Linked DNA regions of Homo sapiens: region 2 is linked to region 1. The links come from fine-mapping of genetic effects on gene expression. Tissue or cell type: whole blood. Region 1 holds a variant in brackets; the other region holds the start of a gene. All regions are shown on one strand. Distances are between the middles of the regions. Region 1 overlaps SLC2A1 (solute carrier family 2 member 1). Region 2 holds the start of SLC2A1 (solute carrier family 2 member 1).

Region 1 (2,902 bases):
TCTGACCAGGGCATCACGGGGCTGGTCAGCAGCACAGAGGGCCCAGATGAGCCTGTAAACTGCATTCATAGGACCATGTATGGTCACCTGTCCAAAGGTCACTTCAGGAACCAGCCCCAGCAGACCGAAGCTGGAGATGTGAGTGGCCAGAACTGAGAACGCTGAAATCTAGCGGTGTTTCTTGGGCAAGCACCCAGACACTTGGTCTGTTGACTTTTGTACTTTACAAACACTTCTCACAAGGCTGGCTGTAGTTTTTCCAACCAGGAGCCAGATTAGAAGTGATACATGTAACATGTGAAGAGAGGACAGAAGGACCCAAGAAGAAGAAATGAAAGTGAGGCTCAGAGCCCATGTGTAGTAACAGGGCAGAGAGACTCCTGTGCCCGCGTAGGCTGAAGGCCTGCCCTAGGGCGACACAGAGATTCCATCTGGCCAACCCTTTCATTCAGCCAGGACTTCCTGAGCATCCACGCTGTGCCAGATGCGGTCCTAGACAGTAAGGAGAGAGAAGTATAGCTGTGAACACAGCAGGCACATGCTGGCCCTCAGGGAGCTGCCTGAGACACAGTCTGAGCCAGGCCCTGTCTCCACAGCAGTGGGAGAGACCCCTTGGAGAAAGCCAGAGTGTCACTAACAGAGGGCTTCAAGGTGCTGTGAGAGCAAACGGGGCAACTAATGCTGGGGCTGGGGTGACAGGGGAGATTAAAAAAAGGGCTTCACGAAGGACTTGGCAGCCATGCTCGACCTTGAAGGGTTAGTTGACCTCATAGGGCAGGAGGGGCAGGTGTCTGGGCAGTGAGAGGGGCTTCTGCAGAGGTGCAGGGGTGTGAAATGTTCTGCTGATGCGGAATTGCTAACTGCCTGCAGTGGGCACACTGACTTCCCTTGTCTGTTTAGAAGAACCTCTCTTAGGAAACAGCATTGGGTTGGCCACAGTTTGCCTACTCTTGAGAAGAGACTTTGCCCCACAAGTGGTGAGGATGCCAGAAGCTTGTTCTCTTCCATAAAACAGGCCCCAAAGGGCTTCCTCCTGGAAGTGGTTAATTAATCATACTACCTTATATGTTTACAAAGCACCACCCCATAAATTACCACCTCACAGCAACTCTACAAGGCAGGCGGGGCTGACATCTTCCCCTCTTCTAAATGAGGGAACTGAAGCCAGATGAGGTATCTGGAGAGTGAGAGGCTGAGCTAGAGGTGGGCTCCAGGCCTTGTGCCTCCCCAGCTCTGCACACTGCCCCTGCCCTGCTGTGAGTGTGACAGGACATTCCTGCCATGCATCCCCTCCTGGAGGAGGAGGACAGAGCAGAAGAGGTGAGCCCAGCCACAGAGGGAGCAGCTAAATGAACCAGGGAATCCTGACCATCATACTGGGCTCATCCGAGCACTGCCTTTCCCCTCCCCAAATGACTGAGCTGCCAGTAGAGATGACTGACGGCCACTGAGAAACCATGAAGTCCTGGCCCAAGGGACAGTGTCAGGCATGTCTGAGAATAAGGCATCCTCAGAATCCAGAGTTTGGGCCAGAAAGG[C/T]CTCAGTTGTTTGACAAACAACACTCCTTGTTTGACAAAGGAGGAACCTGGTCTGCAGAGGAGGTGAGGTCTGCCCAGGATGACCCAGCTTGGTGAGTGAAAGAGCTGGAGGCAACACCCGCCTCCCAACCCAAGCCCTGTGTCCCGTCAGGCTGAACTGGGCTTCGTGCTCTAGGCAGCCTCTCCTTCTCTCTCCTATATCCAAAGAGTTCTAGTCCTCTCTCCCCTTCACCCGTCACCACTACCATAAACCCTTACTGCTTACTTATAGCTTGCCCAGGCATTGTTATACATACTCTAGAAATAGTAATTCAGTTGTTCTTCAAAATAACCCCATTAGGCAGACACCATAATTTTCCCTGCTCTATAAGAAACTGGGGCACAGGAATGTTAAGCAATTAAAGCAAGGACACACAGCTAGTAAGTGGCAAGGCTGCAATGTAACTCCGGGGAGTCTGGCCCTAGTCTGTGCCCTTGACCATTGTGGAAGATGGACACAGTCCCAGATGGGCACCTAAACACCCTTTCACTCACCTACAACTGCCACCTAGCTGGCAGTGTGTGGTCTCACTTTGGAGCTGAGTCAAGCTCAGTCATGTACCAACATCTCAGGTTTCCCACACACAGTTGCACAATCTCTTACACCATCACACCCTGTCATATCACATCACCCCTCAAGCCCTTCAGTTAGATTCATGGCTTGTTGGTCATTTAGTGTCAACTCTGCACCTCCACCACCGTGCTGGGCACCAGCAACATGGATGCATCAGACAGACCATCTCCGTGCTGAGGTTTACTGTACAGGGAGCACACGGTACCTTACAGTTAGTCTTCTAAAGGCGATGATGGAAATGCGAGCAAGCACAGTGGGAGCAGGGAAGGAAGAGGGAGAGGGTGCTTCGCCCTTAGAGCAGGGTTTCTCAGCTTGGCACTGTGATGTTTCTGCTGGTGTTGTAGAGGCCTGTCCCATGCATTGGAGGATGTTTATCAGCATCCTTGGCTTCTGCCCTCTAGATACCAGTAGCCAGTGTGGCAACCAAAAATGTCTCTGGGCATTGGCAGATGTCCTATGGGGTACCAAAGCCGTCTCTGTTTGAGAACCAGTTGCAGTGGAGTGGGAGGGGTGGTTCTCGGGAGGAAGGCTTTCCAGAGGAGTATCTGTGCATGTTCTGAAAGGTGATTAGGCCCAAGCAAAGGTGTGAGGTGTCTAGGTCGTATGAGGGAGTCACTGCGTGTGCCTTGTGAGTCATAGTTGGGGTAGAGGAGACACTTTATTGCAAGAGCTGAGAAGGGCTTCGGGTGTGGCCACGGCAGTGGGATGATTCCTCTGTCTACCGGGAGGCCTGGCCTGGCCTGGCCTTGGT
Region 2 (2,902 bases), 21 kb before region 1:
CCCTTCACTGTGTCTCAAGTAAGGCACTGGTCTAGAGGAAATAAGGTGAAGTCAGATGATAGCAATACCACTACCAGTGCAGTGGCACATGCCTGCACTCCCAGCTACTACGGAGGCTAAGGTGGGAGGATCACTTGAGCCCAGGAGTTTGAGACCAGCATTTATTTATTTACTAACAGACTAAATAAATAAACCAACAATACCACCAACCAGTAAATGAGAACTTCCATGCTAAACACTTCATGAGCTTATCTGGAAATTGCACCTCTCCTGATAGCAATGAGATTGGTGTGGGAATTCCATTTACTCATAAGAAGACAGCCTCGGCCGGGCTCAGTGGCTCACGCCTGTAATCCCAGTACTTTGGGAGGCGAGGTGGGTGGATCACGAGGTCAAGAGTTCAAGACCAGCCTGGCCAAAATGGTGAAACCCCGTCTCTACTAAAAATAAAAATAATTAGCCAGGGGTGATAGCGGGCGCCTGTAATCCCAGCTACTCGGGAGGCTGAGGCAGAGAACTGCTTGAATCCGGGAGGCGGAGGTTACAGTGAGCCGAGATCGTGCCGCTGCACTCCAGCCTGGGCGACAGAGCGAGACTCTGTCTGAGAAAAAAAAAAATTAAAGAAAAAAACGAAAACAGCCTCACTGGCCAGGAACTCGCCCAGGATCGCGGCCGGGCCAGTATACAGTTGAGCTGGTTCAAACCCGAGGTCTATCATGTCCTTAATGTCCTATCATGTCAGTCAGTTAGCCTGCCTTTCATATTTTCCACACTTACAGGTCACCATAGACTCACCTGAACTGTGAGAAGTAGAGGAAGGCGTCCCAGAGGAGGTGATTTTAAAGCCCAGGTTTGAGATGGGTATGCATTTCCAGGCAAGAGAGCCCGGCCGGTGCAAAAGCAAGGCTTGGCTCACAAACGGGAATGTGGGGGGTGGAGACAGGGAAGGGAGAAGTCAATCCCTGGGCAAGACCTCCTGGAGTCTCTCTAACAAATAAATACTACTTTCCATGCAGTAGACGCTGTTCTAAACACTTTACAAATATTAACTCACTTGGTCTTTCTACAACCCTACGAGGTGGTACTGTTACTATCCCTAGTGCACCGAAGTCACCCAGCGGCCGAGTGAGAACTCCAGTCCAGCTTTCCACCCGCTACTCCGCGCATCCCAGCTTGCCTTACAGCCGGGTACCGGCTCCACCATTTTGCTAGAGAAGGCCGCGGAGGCTCAGAGAGGTGCGCACACTTGCCCTGAGTCACACAGCGAATGCCCTCCGCGGTCCCAACGCAGAGAGAACGAGCCGATCGGCAGCCTGAGCGAGGCAGTGGTTAGGGGGGGCCCCGGCCCCGGCCACTCCCCTCACCCCCTCCCCGCAGAGCGCCGCCCAGGACAGGCTGGGCCCCAGGCCCCGCCCCGAGGTCCTGCCCACACACCCCTGACACACCGGCGTCGCCAGCCAATGGCCGGGGTCCTATAAACGCTACGGTCCGCGCGCTCTCTGGCAAGAGGCAAGAGGTAGCAACAGCGAGCGTGCCGGTCGCTAGTCGCGGGTCCCCGAGTGAGCACGCCAGGGAGCAGGAGACCAAACGACGGGGGTCGGAGTCAGAGTCGCAGTGGGAGTCCCCGGACCGGAGCACGAGCCTGAGCGGGAGAGCGCCGCTCGCACGCCCGTCGCCACCCGCGTACCCGGCGCAGCCAGAGCCACCAGCGCAGCGCTGCCATGGAGCCCAGCAGCAAGGTGAGTCGCGCGCCCGCGGGCCCTCCCGCCAGGAACAAAGGCGCAGACTCCTGCCCGCCTTACGCCGGCCAGGGCCTCCCCCGCCGCCCCGCTGCGCTGTGCGCCCGGGGCGGGCCGCGCGCCTCTCCGAGCCTGGCTCGGTGCGGGTCCCGAGCGCAGCGCCCCGCCGGGCCGCTGGCCGCAGTGGGGATGGGCTTCGGATCTAGCGGGCCGGAGGGCGCCGCGTGCGTAGTTGGCGCCGGCACTGAGCACATGGCCTCCTTCCGGGGGCGCCGCGCCGTCCACGCGGCCCTGCTGGGGCTGGGGACACAGGGCCCGGGAGCGGCACGTCGCACACGACCTCGGCAGCAGCAGCCCAGCCTCGGCCCCTCCCGGTGCGGGGGAGGGGGCCCGAGCGCGGCGCCCATTGGCTGAGCGGGCCGAGCCCCCGGCCCGGCCCCGGCCCCGGCGCGCGGAGGAGTCAGGAGCCGCCCCCGCTCTCCGTCTGCTCCCCTAGCCCGGACGCCCCTGTAGGTGGGCGGCCTGGTGCGAGGTGTCCCACCGGCCTCCCCTACTCCTCCCGCCAGTCCCCCGCGGTGACGAGGCCGAGGCCGAGGGGAGGGCACTTTTCTCCAGGCCCGGGCTCGAACGCGGGGGTTGAGATGAACCTCCGGTCTCGGAGGCTCTCCTTTGCGAGGAGTGCAGGCCCCAAAGCTTTGGCCCAGTCTCGCGGAGATGTGTTCCGCGGAGGCAGGTTTACCCTCGGGGCCAGGCGGGGAGCGCAACCGGAGGGGCGGGGGATCTGGGGGCCAGGAAAGAGCCCCAGGCTGAAGTCTAGCGGGAAGCGCGCACGCCACGGGGTTGGGGAATGAGGGATGGGGACTCTGGGGACCAACAACTCCCTAGATAGGATTTCTTTTTTTCTGTGTAAGTGGGCTTGTCCTGCAGGGCATCTTTGTAGCGTCCGCAGAGCGATTTCTTTTCAACAAATTGTTTGTGGAGCCCCTCCTGTGTGTAGGGCATTGTTTCTTTCCACCTCCTTTCCTCCCCCTAGTCTACAATATTTTCAAGTCCCCTTTTTCTTTTGAAACGGTCCCTCTTTATCTATTATACTTTGATTTTTCCATCTCGTCAGCTGGGAGGGCACCTGGATGGCCCTTGTTTTCTTAGCTGGGACGCGGGGG

What was found.
Region 2: it holds the start of SLC2A1, and the variant in region 1 is fine-mapped to the expression of SLC2A1 in whole blood (TOPMed, PIP 0.97).

Annotation. Positions count from the first base shown.
Region 1 is chr1:42,936,642-42,939,543 of GRCh38, reverse strand. All of the region lies in intron 2 of SLC2A1 (solute carrier family 2 member 1), which reads left to right. Among named protein-coding and RNA genes, the nearest start is that of SLC2A1, 21 kb to the left of the region's middle. RefSeq lists an enhancer at 2,662-2,731. The variant C/T (reference allele first, on the strand shown) is at 1,539.
Region 2 is chr1:42,957,471-42,960,372 of GRCh38, reverse strand. It overlaps SLC2A1 (solute carrier family 2 member 1), which reads left to right and starts at 1,505. Exons shown (of 10, transcript NM_006516.4): 1 at 1,505-1,739. The coding sequence starts at 1,722. It overlaps SLC2A1-DT (SLC2A1 divergent transcript), which reads right to left and starts at 1,324. Exons shown (of 4, transcript NR_033967.1): 1 at 796-1,324. RefSeq lists silencers at 1,149-1,332, 1,205-1,614, 1,745-2,384.